6 linked regions of the Homo sapiens genome follow. The protein of the gene in region 1 interacts with the protein of each later gene in a pairwise test. Each region holds a gene or a part of one and is shown in the gene's direction. Other genes may lie near its edges. The genes, in order: ECT2, CHST10, CCDC91, CD19, SPATA22 and OOSP2.

Region 1 (3,500 bases):
TCTCAGTAAAGAACCATGGAAGTAAATTGAGCTTGTGTGCTTTTGATTACAGGCAAATACTCCTGAGCTCAAGAAATCAGTGTCAATGCTTTCTCTAAATACCCCTAACAGCAATCGCAAACGACGTCGTTTAAAAGAAACACTTGCTCAGCTTTCAAGAGAGACAGACGTGTCACCATTTCCACCCCGTAAGCGCCCATCAGCTGAGCATTCCCTTTCCATAGGGTCACTCCTAGATATCTCCAACACACCAGAGTCTAGCATTAACTATGGAGGTAATTCACATTCTTAAAAACTTGTCTTTAAAGTTTAGTGGAATGGAATAATTGTTAGAATTTAGATAAATCCCTGATATAGTGAATATGGAAGTCTTTGCCTTTAATTACCTTTGTTCTAGCTGTAGAGAAAAGACACATGAATAGTTAAGCTTAATAATGTTGCAATTTAATGACTGCTTACTACATGCTAAATGCTTTATACGTTTTGTGTGTTTATAATAGATTTTATTATTCCTGTTTTACAGATGACTAAACTGAGATACAGAGAAGTTAAGTAATTTCTCCAGGGTCATATAACTAGAGAGTGATAGTGCTGTTCAAAAAGCAAACAAAGTCACAGGGGAGGTCACATAAATTATGGAGAAAATAGGTAGAATGAAGTCAGAGGAGGGTGAGTTCACTTTGTGCTGAACTGATACAGAAAGGCTCCTATAATTCTTCCTTGGTTATCAGTATTTCCCTTTCTTTTTGATTTTTAGTCTGTAAACAAATGTGTTTTCTAGATTTAAGAAACAAAAAAAATCAAAATCTCCTCCGGACCTCATGACACTTTTCACTTATTGTCCCATTTTTCTGTTTGCTTTCACATCAGCATACTTAAAAGAATTACTTTGATCTATTGTCTCATTTCCTTGATTCTCGTTGTCCTTTCAACGCATTCCAACTGATCTGCAGTCCTTGTTGGGGAGACAGTTTTTATGCATTCAACACATGAATAGCTACTCCTTTATGGACACAATTTTTTTTCTTTGCTTCTGTGATATTACTTACTCATTTCTCATTCTCCTTGGCCTAACTTCTTTTTTTCAATTCTAAATGTTGTATGTTCCTCCTGAGTCATTGTTTCTTCTCTATTGTACTCTCCCTAAATTATCGTAGTAAAATCTATGGTTTTGAAAAGCATTTGTATGCTGATGACTCCCAAATTTGTCCTCTTCCCTGTCAAGCTACCTACTTTGTACTTCCTTGTCCATGTCTAATAGATATCTTAAACCTAAGATAACCAAATTAGACCTTTGGATTCTGCCACTCTTAATTCCTCTGTTCCTTTGCTCCTCTTCATCAGTCTTTTCTGTAAAAAGGATCTCTCTTAGATGATTGCAGTAGTCTCCTAAATAGTCTCTCCCTTTTAATTTGTGCCTTTCTATATGCAACACTTAGAAAAATCTTTAAAAATATATAAATTAGATGATGCCACTCCTCTGCTTTAAAATCACTTAATGGCTTTCTATTACTGTAGCTTTTAAGTCCCTATGTAATCTTGCCCTCATCTGCCTAATCTCATGTGGTATTATGCTCTCTAATAATGCCTGTACTCTCTAAGCTTCAGTCATACCATCTTTGTTATTCTTCAAATATTTTTAGTACATCCATACCTCAGGACTTTGTTACTTTCTCTGCCTCAAGGAAATCTGCGTGGATTGTCTGTAAAGTTAAATCCCTCCACTCCTTTCTGCCAATCCTGTGACCTGGTAGTTGTTTTTAGTAGTAGTTCTTACGATAGAAATTACAGTACTTGTTTACTTCTTTATTATTTGATTTGCTTCAAATAAGTAATCTTTAAGAGAAAATGAACCTTGTCTGTCTTATTCTGTGTTTATCCTCAGACCCTAGTATAAAGTGGGTATTCACTAAATACTTAAGGGAAGAACTGAAAGTGAATTCAAGGTTGGCCCAGAAATTTGAAATGAATTTGAGAATATAAAGAGGAGCAAATATACAGATAATAGCATACAAACTGAGTTTTTAGAGAATAATGGATAGATCAGTTTGCTTGGAATGTGGAGGAATAAAAGTTAAAAATGTTAATTGAGGCCTAATATTAGGTCACTTTCAAATAAGACTGTAATATCTGAACTGTATATTGTCATCAACAAGGAATTTTAGAAACTCCTTGAGCAGCAGAGAAATTGATTGAATAGATAATTCATAGAGAGTTGTTCTGAAGAATGATTAGAAGGAAGGCAGTTTGGAGACAGTCAGACCATGATGTAATCTATTACAATCGCTTCGGCCATGAAATAATAAGGTGCTGAACCAGAGTATGTGGTGGTTGGAAAGAAAAGTAAGAAGCACTGGAGAAATATTGGTAGAATAAAGCAATAGGGAGGAAATAAAAAGAGATGAAGGCAAATTACTAATTTAAATGAAAGAAATGTTGCCTTGGCATGGATAGGAAATTTATATTTTGGAGGGAGGTAGTGAAGTTTTAGAGAAATCCAAGTTACATTAAGGCAGAACTATCCAGTAAGCATTTGGAAAAGTTGAACCAGCTTGAGAGGGAGATCATGATTAGATCTGAGAATGTACTAGTTTTATAATCATAATGGACAATAGCATGGGATGGTAAGAGGAGAACATAAAGGACTGAAACTTGAATATGCATTTTAGGAGACAAGAGAACAAAATGAACCACCGAAGTAAACAGATGTGACAACTATACTGATATTTTAGGTGCTCTGTAAAATAGATTCCCCAGTTTGTAGGTCATTGTCTAGACACAGAATAATTAAATTAGATCAGTGCATCTCAATTTTTTCCCACTGAAGTATATTCTGTAATGGCAGAGGCTTCTGGGTCTGGTGAGTGTAGCCTAAAATAATGTTTGACAAGTGGGAAATTTTTTGAGATTCTGTTTTTTTTAAAAAGCACTCAGGGGCTGGGCGCGGTGGCCCACGCCTGTAATCCCAGCACTTTGGGAGGTTGAGGAGGGCAGATCACGAGTTCAGGAGTTCGAGACCAGCCTGACCAACATGGTGAAACCCCATCTCTACTAAAAATACAAAAATCAGCAGGGTGTGGTGGTGTGCGCCTGTAATCCCAGCTACTCAGGAGACTGAGGCAGGAGAATCACTTGAACCCGGGAAGTGGACGTTGCAGTGAGCCGAGATGGCACCACTGCACTCCAGCCTGGGGGACAGAGTGAGTCTCCATCTCCAAAAAAAAGCACTCAGAACTCCATAGTACATAATTGTTTTCATATAAAAGCATTTAAAATTGTTTATCATTGAGTAAAATTGATGTGCTGGAAATATATATTATGGTTCTTTGTCACCTATTTCTATTTTATGTCATACATTCCTTTTCCTGTTGAAAAACTTGCTATTAGGTGCTTCTATATATAATGTTAAAGTATTCTAACCATATTAACAGTAAGAAAACAGATTTTAAGCTTTTATACATTAAAAAGATGTATATATATCTATAGATATGTGTATAGAT
Region 2 (4,164 bases), on another chromosome or scaffold:
CCTGCCTCAGTCTCCCGAGCAGCTGGGATTACAGGCACGTGCCCCCACTCCTGGCTAATTTTTTTTGTAGTTTTATTAGAGACAGGGTTTCTCCATGTTGGTCATGCTGGTCTCGAACTCCCGACCTCAGGTGATCCACCTACCTCCGCCTCTCAAAATGTTGGGATTACAGGCGTGAGCCACCACGCCCGGCCTAGTACCACATTCTGTAGATGAGAAGACTGGGACACAGAGAGATGAGAGTGTGACAAGGTCAACAGTCATATGCAGTGACTAAGGCTCTGAATCCACGTGGTCTGATTCCCAGAGCCTTGATCCTTAAATCCTGCATAATATGCTGCATCACATCCAAGCTTCACATTTACTTACTTCTTTTCTGCCGTGCACGTGTATCGATTCAAATCCTCAAAGGGAAACCCAATGTCTCATCTCAACCACAGGGCCCCAAAAAAGGGCTCAGTAAACGTCTTCTGCATGAGGGACAGAACCTTTAAACCATGATTAGTAATGGGGCTAGAAGTGAAATACTCAAACAGCCAGCTCCCTCAATATTATTAACTCATTAAGGAGGGAACCAATAAAAAAGAAAAAAAACAAAAACAAAAACGCTTGTTCCTTGAAAGCTTTGAAAAATTGTGTGTGTGTGTGTGTGTGTGTGTATACATACACGTATCTATTTTACTTGTTTGCTAAATAGACACAGATATAGTCGGGTAGTTAACAAACATGTAGGTTGTATAAAAATAAAACTAGTTTATCTTCTTTGGGGCAATAAAATCCCAATACCTTTGAGGTTGACTCAGGCCTTATCCATTTCTGCAGGTTAAGAAGTTACAATTCTTCAGGTCTGTAAACTGGTCAGGCCGTTATCATTGTCCTTCGTTAATCCACTGTACCTAGACAACAGTTACATCCCCAACCCGGACAGCCAAGGGGGTTCTTTAAAGAATAGAACGTCCCCCTTTTACTAAGTAGGCTTATTAGAAAATGCTAGAAGTTACCCTTAACGCAAGCAAGTGGCCTTTTTCCAAGTTGGGGATTTAAGAAATTTACTTATCTATTTTTTGTATTTTTCCAAGGTGGTTTTGTGTGTGTGTGTGACTTTGTTGTTGTTTTGGTTTGGTTTTTTGCCTTTTTCCAAGTTTGGGATTTTTTTTCTTTCTCAAAAAGCGAACCTGTTTTCTGGATGGAGGCCCAGCGGGACTTGTTCCGGCCGCAGGTCTCGGTCAGAAAGAACGCTTTTGCAGCGGCAGAAAGGGAGACTCGGGATCCGGGCCTGGGGTCCCGCGGCCGCGCCCCTCCCCACTCCCCGCGACCCGCTGGAACGCGCACGGCCGGGGACGGCGGCGGGGACGCGCGCGGGCAGGCGGCGCGCACGGCCGGATAGGCGCGAGGGGGCCGCGTGAGGCGGTGCCGGCGTTCTGGCCCCCAAAGCCGGTCTAGCGCGCCGGGCGTCTTCCTTACTTCCGCTGCCGCCGCCGCCACATCCCGGGACCCGACGGGCCGCGGCGCGGAGGCCTCGGGGCAAGGTGGGGCGGGCCTCCCGAGCTCCCAGGACCCCGCGCGCTTCGCCCACAGGCCCGGCGAAGCCCGACCCGCGCGGCGCCCCCAGGGCCAGGGGAGGAGCCTAAGGACCCGGACGAGCGCCGCTCCAGTAGGGTGAGCTCGGGGACGCGCAGGCGGGTGGGTTTCAGCGCCTGGGCCCCTCTCCCCGCCGCGGGGCGCACGGAAAAACCGGGGAACCCGCGGGTTTTGTCCTGGCGAGCCACATCCCGGTGTGTTTTGGCGACTTGAAGACCTCCCTAGTTCGCGGGAGTAGCGGGAAGAGCCTTCCTCGCGTTAATTATGCAATAAGAAGGCGTCCTTGTGCGGGATGCTGTGACCCGCGGAATTATTGATATTGTGCGAGCCTACAATTTACTTCTTTCATCCTTGGCTGAGAATTTGCGTTTGTAATTGTAGATGGAGAGAGGAAGAAAGGGTTCAGCTTGGGTCCAAGGAGCATGCAGAGGAAGGCAGGGAAGAAGGAGCATGTGCAGCTTCGGTGCGAGGGGAGTCAGGGGTGGGAATGCACGTTCCCTGCCTGAGGGGCCCCGGGGTGCCCTGAGCCTCTGATCTTCGCTGTCAGGAGGCCTGTCCGAAGTTGGAGGTTGAGGCATGCAGTTCTGCACTTCTGGCTGGGAAGGTGAACCAGGTTTTCCAAAATGTCATTTTTGCTTTCCAAGTCTGCAAGGCAGGAAAGGGTTGGGCAGTGAATGGAAAGTAGTGCAGCCAGGTTCTGGTTAGCTCAGCGGCAGGACTGTCATAACGGTGGGTTTTTGTTGTTGTTGTTGTTGTTGTTGTTTTGTCTGAAAACCAGAGTCTGGGGCTTTGGGCCATGAGGAGTTGGGTTATTGCATTGCTTAGAGTGCCAGAGTGAGAAATGTCTCAGACGCTGTTAAAATTAGGCAGCTCAGTTTAGCTCTGGCTCTCTGATAACCAACCACCTCCTCCTTCACTCTTTTCAGTGACTGGGTTAAAATGAAAAGACACAAAGAGAGAAGTGGTCTTTTCCCTTCCCTCCCCATTATAATTAAGAGCTTAGTCCATCTTGGCTCAGAATTGGAATTCAGAATTCAGAATTGCTCTTGACCCTGAAGAATAGAATCTCAAAGAAATACCTGAGCAGAAAATTCTCTTCTTCGCTGAAATGAAAATTGGAGTGTTTGCAAAACTGAACAAAGAAAGGAAAGAATTTGTAAACATCACAGGCAACTTGCAGTTATATTCGGATCATTTTTCAGTGTTTGAGGAGTTCATACAATAAAAAGGTGAGAGAGAGCCAGGAATAGAAACAGGGGAGAGAGGTGGTTGCAGGACCTTAGAGATTGCAGAAACCCAGGAGTTCATTTTCTTTTCATACACTTCTGGATAACCTGGATGTGAGGACCATCAAATGCCGTACATGATGTTTCTAACAATGATGGACCACATATACAACAGTGGTCCCATAAGACTATACTACCTTATTTTTACTCTACCTTTTCTAATTTTAGATACACAAATACTTACCATTGTATTACAGATGCTTACAGTATTCAGTACAGTAACAGCAGTACAAGTTAGTAGCCCGGGAGCAATAGATGATTCCATATAGCCTAGGTGTGTGGTCAGCTGTACCATATAGCCTAGGTGTGTGGTTAGCTGTACTATCTAGGTTTATGTAAGAACGCTCTGATGTTTGCAGAAGAACATCGCCTAACGATACATTTCTCAGAAGGTATCCCTATTGTTAAGTGATGAATGACTGTATATAAAGCTTAATCTTTCAATCAACATAATAGGAAATTGCTTTTAATTTTAGCATTGAGTTCTTAGAGTAAAGGGAGGCAGAGAGAGACCGTGCTGCATGTGTCCCAGTCAGCTTGGGCTTTATTGTATGTTAAATGAGTTGTATGTTTATTTTGGTAGATCTCCTAAATCCATGATCTAATTCCATGACTTTGGCTTGTTTCTGGTTTTTTATGATATGGCATTTGGCTAAAATTTTCCAGGTGCTAAAGGTGTAAGGAGTACGAAAATCCAGAGAACATTTTGCATTGGAAGAATTGATCATCTTGTATAGGAATCCTATAACTATTTCAAACATACGAAACAGGCATAATTGGATTTGATTATTTTTGCTACAAAAAATGTTTCATTTTTCACACTAAGTTACATGGAAGAGTCTTTTAAACAGCTAGTGGTTTTGGTACATTTAGAATATTCATTTACCAAGAAATCCAAATATAACCTGCCTTTGTAAGAGACCCATTCTGCCAAATATATTTGAATCATCAAAATGGTTCACTATTTCCTTCCTAAGTATAAACCAAGTTGTATTAAGTAAGTTGATCTTGTAACTTTTAATAATGCTTTTTTTTTTTTAATTTTCCTATCCAGTGACAAGAGGAACCAAGAACCTCAGTTCAGGGGAAACACAGCAAGGAAATGTGAGCCCCAGGCTGCAGAAGGTACGTGAAGGAGAATGTGAGCTCATCAGTTATTTGAGCATGCCATTCAGTATTGTTCCTGCCTTTTTTCTTGCCTGTGCAGATTGTAAACTCTTGATTAGGAGTATGTAAATGTGTGCTTAGAAACGTTTCCTTAAATATAATAATAGGAGCATGCTCTGAGGCTGGGATT
Region 3 (3,500 bases), on another chromosome or scaffold:
CTGGGCGTGGTTGCGGGTGCCTGTAATCCCAGCTACTCAGGAGGCTGAGGCAGGAGAACTGCTTGAACCAGGGAGTCGGAGGTTACAGTGAGCTAAGATCGTGCCACTGCACTCCAGACTGGTGACAGAGTGAAACTCCGTCTCAAAAACAAAAAAAAAAAAAAGAAGGAAATTACCAAACTGTTTTCCAAGGTAGCTGTTTCATTTTGCATTCCCGCAAGTGATGTTTGATGTTCCAGTTGCTCCACATTCTGGTCAGCACTTGTCATTTTATTTTTAATGTTAGCTATTCTAATATGCGTTTAGTGAAAACCCATTTATGTTTTAATTTGAATTTTTCTTCTAACATATTGAGCGTCTTTTCCTGTGCTATTATTTGCCATCTGTGTATCTTCTTTGATTAAGTGTCTGCTGAAATCGTTTGTTCGTTTTTAATAGGGTTGTTTGTTATTGGTTTGCAAGTGTTTTATACAGTCTGGATACAAATTCATTATCGTATATATGTTCACAGCATTTCCTTCGAGTCTGAGTCTGTAGTTTGTCCTTTCATTTTCTTAACAGTATCTTTCAAAGAGCAGAAGTTTTAAATTTTGGTGAAGTCCAGTTTATCAGTTTTTTCTCTTATGATTTGTGCTTTTTTATCATGAGAAATTTTGCCTAATCCAACGTTGCAAAGATTTTTTTTCTTATGTTTTCTTCCAGAACTTTTATAGCTTTAAATTTTAGATTTAGGTCTGTGACCAATTTCGAGTTAATTTTTGCATATAGTGTGAGGTAGGGGTCAAGACTCTCTCTCTCTCTTTCTCTCTCTGTGTGTGTGTGTATGGATGCCCCAGTCTTGCAGCACCATCTCTTGAAAAAGACTATTCTTACTGTGTCCAGAATTGGTTCCTTCCAGTGGGTTCTTGGTCTTGCTGACCTCAAGAATGAAGGCACGGACCCTCGCAGTGAGTGTTACAGTTCTTGAAGATGGTGTGTCCGGAGTTTGTTCCTCCAGAAGTTCAGATGTGTCTGGAGTTTCTTCCTTCTGGTGGGTCCATGGTCTTGCCGACTTCAGGAGCAAAGCCACAGACCTTTGCAGTGAGTGATACAGCTCTTAAAGGTGGCGCATCCGAAATTGTTCATTCCTCCTGGTGGGTTTGTGGCCTTGCTGGCTTCAGGAGTGAAGCTGCATCCGAAATTGTTCATTCCTCCTGGTGGGTTTGTGGCCTTGCTGGCTTCAGGAGTGAAGCTGCAGACCTTTGCGGTGAGTGTTACAGCTCATAGAGGTGGCGTGTCCTGAGTTGTTTGTTCCTCCCAGTGGGTTTGTGGTCTCGCTGGCCTCAGGAGTGAAGCTGTAGACCTTTGTGGTGGGTGTTGCAGCTCATTGTTATAGCTCGTAAAGGTGGCGTGTCCGGAGTTGTTCGTTCTTCCTGGTGGGTTCGTGGTCTCGCTGGCTTCAGGAGTGAAGCTGCATACCTTCACTGTGAGTGTTACAGCTCATAAAGATAGTGCGGACCCAAAGAGTGAGCAGCAGCAAGATTTATTGCGAACAGTGAAAGAACAAAGCTTCCACAGCATGGAAGGGGACCCGAAGGGGTTGCTGCTGCTGGCTCGGGTGGCCTGCTTTTATTCCCTTATTTGGCCCCACTCACATCCTGCAGATTGGTCCATTTACAGAGAGCTGATTGGTCCATTTTACAGAGTGCTGATTGGTCCGTTTTACAGAGTGCTGATTGGTCCGTTTTGCCAGAGTGTTGATTGGTGCATTTACAAACCTTTAGCTAGACACAGAGCGCTGATTGGTGCATTTACAATCCTTTAGCTACACAGAAAAGTTCTCCAAGTCCCCTACCCGATTAGCTAGACACAGAGTGCTGATTGGTGCGTTTACAAACTGTTAGCTAGACACAGACTCTGATTGGTGCATTTACAATCCTTTAGCTAGATAGAAAAGTTCTCCAAGTCCCCACCTGACCCGGAAGTCCAGCCGGCTTCACCTCTCATTACTATCTTTTCTTCATTAAATTTCTTTGGCTTGCCTTGTTAAAAATCAGTTGAGTATGTTTGTGTGGTTTGCTTTGTGGACTCTATTTTGTTCCATTGTTCTGTGCGTCTGTTTGGCTAAAACCTCAGTCCTTATTATGGTAGCGTTATAGTGTATCTTGAAGTCAAAAAGCCTGAGTCCTCCAACTTTGTTGTTGTTTGCCAAAAATTTTTGAGTATTCGAGTTCTTTTTCTTTCCATGTACATTTTAGAATCTCTTTATTTCTATATAAAAGCATTGTGGAATTTTTAGTATGATTGCATTGAAGTTATGGATCCATTTGGGGAGAATTGACATCTTAAAAATGTTGTTTTCTAATCCATTAATAAAATACCTTTCCTGTCCCACTGCTATGGCTCATGCTTGTAATCCCAGCACTTTGGGAGGTCAAGGTGGGAGGATCGCTTGAGCCCAGGAGTTCAAGAGCAGCTTGGACAACATGGCAAAACCGCATCTCTACAAAAATGAGAAAAATTAGCTGGGTGTGTTGCCATGCACCTGTAGTCCCTGATACTTGGAAGGCTGAGGTGGGAGGATTGATTGAGCCTGGGAGGTAGAGGCTGCAGTGAGTTGTGATCATGCCACTGCACTCTAGCCTCTGCAACAGAGAGAGCCTCTTTCAAGAGAGAAAACAAAATGAAACAACCTTTCTACGTTTATTTGGTCTTTGATTTCTCTCTGTTTTTAAGCTTTCCGCATAAAAATGTTGCGCATATTTTGTTATGTTTGTATCTAAATGTTTTATGTTGTTTGGTTCTGTTGTAAACAGTAACCTTTAAAAATTTTTAAATTTCCAATTACTTATGTAAGTGAATCAGTATTTTAATATTGATCTTGAATTTTTGAATTTTACAACCTTGTTAAACTCACGAGTTCGTTCTAGTAGCTTTTGTAGCTACTGCTGTCTGCTGGTAGAGACAGCTTTATTTCACATTTTCTCATTTGTTTGCCTTTTATTTTGTTTTCTTGTCTCTTTGCACTGGCTAGGACCTTTGCTAATGTTAACTAGAACAAGTCAGATCAGCACAGATATCCTTGCATTGCTCTTCATCTTAGTAGAGAAGGTATACAGTCTTTTACCATTGAGTAGTTAGCTGTAAGTTTTTTGTGGATATCATTTTGACCCAGCCAAGGAAGTTCTCTTTAACTCCTGCTTAGAGCTTTAAAATTTAATCACAAGTGAATGTTATATTGCTTTTTTTGATTGTGAACATGATAGTTGATTACAGTAGAAAGTTGGAAATAAAGGAAGACTATAAAAAAAGTTACCCTATTTTCAGTAATCTGAGGTAACTGCTGCAAACATTGTGGTGGCTTTTCTTTCAGTCTTTTCTTTTGCAAATATATTTTAAAAACAAAATTGTTAATATTGTTTTATATTTTGCCCTTTTCACTCAGAATCACATTGGGAGTACTTGCATCATGAATTATTTTGAAAACTTGATTTGTAATGGTTATGGGTTATTGTGTTATA
Region 4 (2,436 bases), on another chromosome or scaffold:
TGACCTCCTGGGACATGGCTCCTTAGAGAGAGGAGAGCCTTTCTCACAGCTTGGGACTTTGAGTCTGTGTCTTTTTTTTTTTCTTGAGACGGAGTTTTGCTGTGGTTGCCCAGGCTGGAGTGCAGTGATCTCGGCTCACTGAAACCTCCGCCTCCCGGGTTCAAACGATTCTCCTGCCTCAGCCTCCCAAGTAGCTGGGATTACAGGCACCCACCACCATGCCCAGCTAATTTTTTTGTATTTTTAGTAGAGATGGGGTTTCACCATGTTGGCCAGGCTGGTCTCGAACTCCTGACCTCAGGTGATCCACCCGCCTTTGCCTCCCAAAGTGCTGGGATTACAGGCGTCAACCACCGCGCCCGGCCGAGTCTGTGTCTTGCCTCTGTGCCTCAGACTTGCGGTTCCTTGAGATCTCAGGATTGGGACGTAAGATGCCAGCCTGGGGTCCTCGTCTCATAGCCCCTTCCCCCTAGTACTATGGCACTGGCTGCTGAGGACTGGTGGCTGGAAGGTCTCAGCTGTGACTTTGGCTTATCTGATCTTCTGCCTGTGTTCCCTTGTGGGCATTCTTCATCTTCAAAGAGGTGAGTCATGTCCCCAGTGGGTCTGTCCAAACCCTACTCCATCTTCCCCAGGATAAGCCGGCTCTGGCCAGTCTGACAACCATCTTTCTTTCCTCCCATCCCTCCCTTCAAGACCCCAGAATCCTGTTCTCCCCAGTCTTCCTCTAGCCTCCCTCAAACTTCCCAAGCCTCTTGCAATTTTTTTTTTTTTTTTGAGACAGGGTCTCATTCTGTCACCCCAGCTGGAGTGCAGTGGCACAATCTGAGCTCACTGTAACCTCTGCCTCCCAGGCTTAAGTGATTCTTGTGCTTCAGCCTCCCGAGTACCTGGGACTACAAGTGTATGCCACCACACCCGGCCAATTTTTTATATTTTTAGTAGAGACGAGGTTTCACCATGTTGGCCAGACTGGTCTCGAACTCTTGACCTCAAATGATCCGCCCACCTCGGCCTCCCAAAGTGCTGGGATTACAGGCACGAGCCACCGCGCCCGTCCGCCTCGCAATTTGAACTCCTGTCTCCTTTGTTGAACCAAGTGACCTCCCCAGCACCTGGCCCCACAAATCCTCACCCTGCCAAGCAGCCCCTCCTCTGATCACGCCCTTTAACTCCCACCAGCCCTGGTCCTGAGGAGGAAAAGAAAGCGAATGACTGACCCCACCAGGAGGTAATGCAACCAGTGCACCCCGCGGTAACACCCTCCACCTTCACTTTATGCCTTGCACTTACTGTTTCCTCTGCCCAGGGGTTCTTTGCTCCGTCTCTACTGTTTCAAATACTGCCCAACCTCAAAGCCCAGCTCCAAAGCTACCTCCTCTGTGAAGAACTCCTTGGAAATGATCATCTCAGACTCCTCTATTGGCTGTCCCAGCACAAGTGATCACGTTTAACTTCTGAAGGCCTGGACAGAATCTTGAGTGGGTCCGCCATTCCATTCCAAGTCGGCCCTCACCGTGCACTTCCTCTTCTCCCGCCAGATTCTTCAAAGTGACGCCTCCCCCAGGAAGCGGGCCCCAGAACCAGTACGGGAACGTGCTGTCTCTCCCCACACCCACCTCAGGCCTCGGTAAGAGGCACCGCCCCTCCAGCCTATAGCTCCGCCCCAGATCCGGGGCTCCACCCCCACTCTCCTCATCCCTCCAATCCGCTGTGCGCCAAGCCTTCTGGAGCTCGGAACTCCGCCCCCGGGGCGGGGAGTCCCGCCCAGCTATGAGCCCCGCCTCTAGAACCAGACCCCGCCTCCAGGGCTCAGAGCCACGCCCCCAGGACCCAGAGCCTGAAGTCGTAATCAAGAGCAGAACTTCGCCCCAGAACTGAAGGCCTCGGCCCTAGATTTAGATTCCGCCCCAGGGTTCAAGGCCGGGTTCCTAGACCCAGAGTCCATTCGCAGAGCCCAAAACATCCTCTTCCCGTGCCCCGCCGCGCGGACCCTTAGCCTTGACCGCCCCCATCTCTTCTGACCCCGTCTTACAATGCCCCTCTCACCAGGACGCGCCCAGCGTTGGGCCGCAGGCCTGGGGGGCACTGCCCCGTCTTATGGAAACCCGAGCAGCGACGTCCAGGCGGATGGAGCCTTGGGGTCCCGGAGCCCGCCGGGAGTGGGTGAATGACTGGGAGAGGGAAGGGTCGTTCCCCACATGGAGGGGGTTGGAGCGGTCTGTGGCCCGAATAGTGGACTGGGCCCTGGAGGAGAGGGGGCATGACTCGGTTCCCCATCCCCATCCCCAAACCCCCAGGCCCAGAAGAAGAGGAAGGGGAGGGCTATGAGGAACCTGACAGTGAGGAGGACTCCGAGTTCTATGAGAACGACTCCAACCTTGGGCAGGACCAGCTCTCCCAGGGTAAGGCTGCCCTCCCCCGTGGCCCCCCACC
Region 5 (3,500 bases), on another chromosome or scaffold:
ATATTTGCTTTATATATTTAGGTGCTCTGATATTGGATGTATATATGTTCACAATTTTTATGTCTTCCTATTGAATTTACCCATTTATCATTATATAATGACTTTCTTTGTCTTTAGAAACAACTTTTAACTTAAAGTCTATTTTGTCTGACATAAACTTAGCCACCCCTGTTTTCTTTTGGTTGCTGTTTGCATGGAATATCTTTTTCCATCCCTTTATTCTCAGCTTTTATGTGTCTTTGAATCTAAACTGAGTTCATTGTAGACAGCATACAGTTGGATCTTTAATCCACTCAGCCTCTCCTCATATAGGCATACCTTATTATGTTGCACTTTGCTTTATTGCACTTCACAGATACTGCATTCTTTACAAGTCAAAGTTTCGTAGTAACCCTGCATTGAGCAAGTCGATTGGTGCCATTTTCCAACAGTATGTGCTCACTTCATGTTTCTATGTCACATTTTGGTACTTCTTGCAATATTTCAAACTTTTTCATTATTATTATATCTGTTATGATGATCTGTGATCAGTGATCTTTGGCATTACTACAAATGTGCTGAACAGAGAGTTGTAAAGCTGAAATAAATTTTTCTAGACTATGAATAATAAAAGTAATTTCTATAACCATGAGAGTGAGGAAAGACAAAATTGTGTTTCTGTTCTCTTTATTGAAAATAAAATTACAAAATTGTTGCGTGTGATGGTACGTACCTGTAGTGCCAGCTACTCTGGAGGTTGAGGCAGGAGAATCACTTGTGCCCATGGGTTTGAGACTGGCCTGAGTCCAAAAAAATTACAAAATTATTGTCGTATGAAGAAGTGATCAGTGTAGGAAAAAATTTCTATAAAGGAGTATCAGGCAGTTAATTTATAATAATTCTAACAATTTTTTTCTGGGTATCGTGATGTTTGTGGTGTTTATAACTTAAATTGTTGTAATTGTGCTTTCTTTTCTCGTTATTTTGTACTAACTTTGTACCCAATTAACAGTGTTCCCCAAATTATACAAGCTTCAGACCTCATAAAACTTGGATTTGTTCCTGGTCAGCAGTGTACCTAGACCTCTTTTTGGATTATTTACCTAAGTAGGGGATGGGTTGTATTGGTTGCCCTCTTGTGATACTTGTGGTATTTCCAGGAAAATTACTGAGAATTAAGAATTTGTGGGCTGGGAATGGTGGCTTATGCCTCTAGCCCCAGCACTTTGGGAGGCCAAGGAGGTGGATCACTTGAGCCCAGGAGTTTGTGGCCAGCTTGGGCAACGTGGTGAAACCCTGTCTCTACAAAAAATAACAAAAATTAGCTGGGCATAGTGGCACTCACCTGTAGTTCCAGCTACTCAGGAGGCTGAGGTGGGAGGATCGCTTGAGCCTGGGAGATTGATGCTAGAGTGAGCTGTGTTCTTGCCATTACATTCCAGCCTGGGTAACAGAACGAGACCCTGTCTCCAAGAGAAAAAAAAAAAATTCGTGACTTAGACTAGTTTTGTTTCCTGTGGAACTCCTAACTAGGCTGCTCAGAAATTATGCTTTTGATTTTGGCCTCATTAGCATCTAGCATAATGTTCTGGTCAGCTGATATAACACACTTAATGTTGCTGACAAATGCTGTACCAAATACATTATAGGGCTTTTAAGCTGTGCAGTAAAACCACAAAATTTCTAATCAAATATTAATAGCTATCTATCCTGCTTATATGTATTCTCCTTGTGATTTAAAATCATTGCTAAGCCACAGTTTAACTTCTTAAAATTTTACTTTGTAGAAAATTTTAAAATTGAATATATAAAGAAGCAAGTAAATGCCCTCAAAGTCTTACCACTTGGATACAACTACTATCATATGAAGAATGCTATCATTTAAAAATATACTTTGTAGTACTAGACTCTGAGTTGGGAGATCTTGTATTTCCTGGGTTCTAGACTTGTGAGTAATTTCCTGTATGACTTTGGACAAGTTAATTCCTCATTAGGGATCAGTCTTCTCATCTGGAAAGAGAGGTAGTACAACATTGTAGGGTTGTTGTGATGTATTTGGAATTTCTCAGTAGTTAGTTATAAAGTGCTTTCTAAGTCATAAATTGCCATATAAATGAATTTTTCATTATTAATTTTTTTTGTAATTAAGAAACCATATAGAAACAAATGCTTTTTTTTTGCACTATTACAGCTACAGAGATGGTAACAAAAATACCAGCTTGAAAACTTGGAATAAAAATGATTTTAAGCCTCAATGTAAACGAACAAACTTAGTGGCAAATGATGGAAAAAATTCTTGTCCAGTGAGTTCGGGAGCTCAACAACAAAAACAATTAAGAATACCTGAACCTCCTAACTTATCTCGCAACAAAGAAACCGAGCTACTCAGACAAACACATTCATCAAAAATATCTGGCTGCACAATGAGAGGGCTAGACAAAAACAGTGCACTACAGACACTTAAGCCCAATTTTCAACAAAATCAATATAAGAAACAAATGTTGGATGATATTCCAGAAGACAACACCCTGAAGGTAAATGTTTAAATACAAATTAATGACTTATTTACATTTTTAAAAATATGAGGTAAATATTTAGAAAACTACAGAGATAAGAGCGCCTGAAATAAATTCCATGACATACATTACTTGATTAGCATAAATATTCAGTTCCATTGAAGTGGATGAATGTTAGTTTCCAAAATATTTTCTTAGAGGGTATGAATGGCTGCTCCTTTTCCTTTCAAACTTTAGAGTTTTCTGCTGGATTCTGACTTTCACTTTACACTCATTTTAAAGATAAAGACAGTTTATCCATTGTTTATGAAGTTACCCAGGCTCTTGATATGTCATTCTAAGTATTTTTCAACAGAGGTCAGCAAACATTTTTCTTAAAGGGCCAGACAGTATTTTTGGCTTTATGGGCCGTACTGTCTCTGTTGCAGCTACTCAGCAATACTACTCAACTCTGCCACTGTAGCTTGGAAGCAGCCATAAGCAATACATAAATGAATGGACACTGCTCTCCTCCAACAAATGTTTACACAAATAGATAGCAGGTTAGATTTGCACTGCAGGCCATAGTTTTCTTTATGATCAACTTATTATGACCTTTGCTTTATGATCTTGTCCTAGTCTACCTTTGTAGCCTCATATTTCATAGTCTACTAATTGTCCAATGCTCTAGCCACTTCAGACTCGTCACAATTCTCTAAACATAGCATACACTCTGTGCTTTGGTTTATATTCTTCCCTATACCTGTATCTCAACTGTACTTCCTCTCTACGCTCAGTGCTCTGATTGCTCTTTGTAAATGTTATTTATATATTATGTGTGCTGGTTATTCCTCATCTCTGCTCCCTGGCCCCTTGGCCCACTTGATTCTTCACCTGCCCTTCTCTGTTGTGGAAGGCTGAACTGTCCTATGTAGTGCATCATCCTGAGATTGTTTACTTGCTGGCTTTTGCTAGAGGTCAGCCAGTAGGAGTCACTGGTACGACATCATAGGGTGGGAGGAAAGG
Region 6 (2,568 bases), on another chromosome or scaffold:
TTTGAACACTTTCTTAAGATAGACACCCTTCTGATGCTTTTCATATGGTTCTTTCCACAGTGAAAATAAGTTGCTCTCTGGACTGGTTGATGGTCTCAGTTATCCCAGTTGCAGAAAGCAGAAATCTGTATATATTTGCGGATGAATTACATCTGGGAATGGGCTGCCCTGCAAATCGGATACATACATATGTATATGAGTTTATATATCTTGTTCGTGATTGTGGCATCAGGACAAGGGTAAGAACAGTGATTGTTTGTAAAAAATACTGCATGTTTTGTCAGACTTTTATGCCTAGTATTAAAATTGTCTTTTAAAAAAATAATGTTTGCTTCTCATTGTAGTAATTTATGGGCAGGGGACAACGGAATTTATCATTATTTTTCACTGAATATTGGGTCATTCTGTGTGCACAGGACCTTAGATCACAGATTTATAAATTGGCTAGGGAACTGATTCTAAGTTGCCCTTAGGCTACTATTATATTTTACTAAATATTAGCAGACTGCTTTAAATTTTGTGTGATTCTTCTAATGTGGAAGGTCACCAATCTTGGGAAGCTCCATCATGTTCAATGTTAGGTCATTTGAAATCTATCCATGTTCCATGAGGATTTGTGTAAATATATAGTGGATTTTCATTGAAATGAAATCTCTTGTCATTCAGCTAGGCACAAATCCTAAATTGCGTTGTTATCCTGGGATATTATCTTCTCACAGATTCCCAAATTTAAGCAATTTATATTCACACTACACAAATATTTTGGGCCAGTGACCAATGATAATAACAATCATTTTTGAATAAAGTATTTTATTTTAGAAATTGGGAACTTGGAGCTTCAGAAGGTGCTTTACCAGCTTTTCCAGGGATGCACTGCTTGTTGGTGGTAGTTTAGATACCAAACCAGGATGAATACTCTCCGAAGCTTGTGCTTTAAACCACTCTCCGTTATTTGACTTACAAATCACCTTTCTCAAAGGAACTGTTGGAAACCTTTTCATTAATGAATCATAAAGATGGCTGTAAGCGGCAGTTTAAATTTGCTGCAATGAATTAAGATTGTTTTGCCCCCAGGCATTTTAAATTCACTCTTAGGGATAACACTCCTCTTCTGTCCCAGTGAGTTGTCATATCTTTATTTATATTTAAGAATGACAGTAGCCATTTTTGAGATCATGAATGTTTTTTACATCCTATTCAAGTGTGTGTATTCCTCATCTGTTACTCCAAATATCTTCCACTGAAACTTCATGCTCTCCTAGGTAGTTTCTGAGGAAACTCTCCTTTTTCAAACCGAGCTGTACTTTACCCCAAGGAATATAGATCATGACCCTCAGGAAATCCATTTGGAGTGTTCCACCTCTAGGTAAGTCCAGCAGATTTGATTCCTTTGGAATGTTTTAGCTTTACCTTTGCTTATGAGAAGCTTCTGCAGAAGCATAGACTTTAGAGAATATAACATGATTCACCCATAAGTATAATTGTAAACAAACCCCAAATTAGTATTTACACAAATATTTTAATGAGTACTTTAAAATGTTTTAATATTTTGAATGTAATGTTTATTTTAGAATAAAAACATATAGATTTATAATGGTCCTAACAATCTAGTGTAACTATGTTATTTTATAATAACTCAACTACAAAGCAGAGTCATTAAATACTCTGTCACCTTTAGTAAGTGATAGGATTAAGCACTGATATTATCTTTCAATGTTTTGTCTTTTATAATATTCTGATACATTTTATTGCTCAATTTCATCTTATAAGAGTAAGTGGCTAAAAACATAAGAAAATCAGTCCTTCATTTAATACTAACTCATGGAGAATACATGAAGGGAGGGCTTATCAGCCTAATTATTAAATGTACTTTGCTTGCAATTTTGTGGAACTGAGATATTGAATCCCAAGAGCCTCGTGTGAACTTTGAGACTAAGTGGAAAGGTATCCTGATACACTTTTTTTTTTTTTGCCATGCCATTGAAATATTTATGTTAAGTCTTATAAATCTGAGTGAAGAACCTTGGAAACTATCTCAAAACCACAGGAAAATTTTTATCCTTGCTTAATATGTGAAAATAGTTGACATCAAAATAAGAATTTAGAGCTCAGCCAATGTGCAATGTCTTAATGTGATTATAGTACTTTTTCTCAAGGAGAGGCAGAATTTTTTTTTAATTTTGGTAAAATATACATAATCTTGTACATTTGTACAAGTTGTAAATTTGTTAAAATGTATATAATCTTTTTTAATTTTGGGAAAATGTACAAATCTTTTAATTTTGGTAAAATGTACATAATCTAAGATACCATTTTAAGTGTACAGTTCAGTGGCATTAAGTCCATTCACATTGTTAATACTTTTACTCTTCCCTTTAACTTATTTTCATAAAGTATTTTCATAATACTTTTACTCTTCCCTTTAACTTATTTTCATAAAGGCTGAGGGATTTAGTGATATTCAGGAACATAGCTGAACTCTAAATAGAAACCACCCCTTGATTCTCTGTCTCTATCTCTGTCTCTGTCCTTGTCTGTCCCTGTCTTTCTGGTCTGTCCCTGTTTCTC

Evidence for each region.
Region 2: the proteins of ECT2 (region 1) and CHST10 interact in a two-hybrid assay, tested with the Homo sapiens proteins (one large-scale study listed by BioGRID).
Region 3: the proteins of ECT2 (region 1) and CCDC91 interact in a two-hybrid assay, tested with the Homo sapiens proteins (one large-scale study listed by BioGRID).
Region 4: the proteins of ECT2 (region 1) and CD19 interact in a two-hybrid assay, tested with the Homo sapiens proteins (one large-scale study listed by BioGRID).
Region 5: the proteins of ECT2 (region 1) and SPATA22 interact in a two-hybrid assay, tested with the Homo sapiens proteins (one large-scale study listed by BioGRID).
Region 6: the proteins of ECT2 (region 1) and OOSP2 interact in a two-hybrid assay, tested with the Homo sapiens proteins (one large-scale study listed by BioGRID).

Annotation. Positions count from the first base shown.
Region 1 is NC_000003.12:172,764,226-172,767,725, forward strand, and holds part of ECT2 (protein ECT2), read left to right. Parts: intron 1-52; coding exon 53-275; intron 276-3,500. UniProt on the Homo sapiens protein: Guanine nucleotide exchange factor (GEF) that catalyzes the exchange of GDP for GTP. Promotes guanine nucleotide exchange on the Rho family members of small GTPases, like RHOA, RHOC, RAC1 and CDC42.
Region 2 is NC_000002.12:100,414,869-100,419,032, reverse strand, and holds the start of CHST10 (carbohydrate sulfotransferase 10), read left to right. Parts: upstream 1-1,364; 5' UTR 1,365-1,659; exon of another isoform or gene 1,660-2,810; intron 2,811-3,921; 5' UTR 3,922-3,992; intron 3,993-4,164. UniProt on the Homo sapiens protein: Catalyzes the transfer of sulfate from 3'-phosphoadenylyl sulfate (PAPS) to position 3 of terminal glucuronic acid of both protein- and lipid-linked oligosaccharides.
Region 3 is NC_000012.12:28,193,456-28,196,955, forward strand, and holds part of CCDC91 (coiled-coil domain-containing protein 91), read left to right. Parts: intron 1-3,500. UniProt on the Homo sapiens protein: Involved in the regulation of membrane traffic through the trans-Golgi network (TGN). Functions in close cooperation with the GGAs in the sorting of hydrolases to lysosomes.
Region 4 is NC_000016.10:28,934,971-28,937,406, forward strand, and holds part of CD19 (B-lymphocyte antigen CD19 isoform 2 precursor), read left to right. Parts: intron 1-459; coding exon of another isoform or gene 460-473; coding exon 474-584; intron 585-1,182; coding exon 1,183-1,231; intron 1,232-1,541; coding exon 1,542-1,630; intron 1,631-2,052; coding exon 2,053-2,166; intron 2,167-2,300; coding exon 2,301-2,405; intron 2,406-2,436. UniProt on the Homo sapiens protein: Functions as a coreceptor for the B-cell antigen receptor complex (BCR) on B-lymphocytes. Decreases the threshold for activation of downstream signaling pathways and for triggering B-cell responses to antigens.
Region 5 is NC_000017.11:3,447,820-3,451,319, reverse strand, and holds part of SPATA22 (spermatogenesis-associated protein 22), read left to right. Parts: intron 1-2,170; coding exon 2,171-2,513; intron 2,514-3,500. UniProt on the Homo sapiens protein: Meiosis-specific protein required for homologous recombination in meiosis I.
Region 6 is NC_000011.10:60,043,409-60,045,976, forward strand, and holds part of OOSP2 (oocyte-secreted protein 2 precursor), read left to right. Parts: intron 1-60; coding exon 61-239; intron 240-1,262; coding exon 1,263-1,366; intron 1,367-2,568. UniProt on the Homo sapiens protein: Involved in oocyte maturation.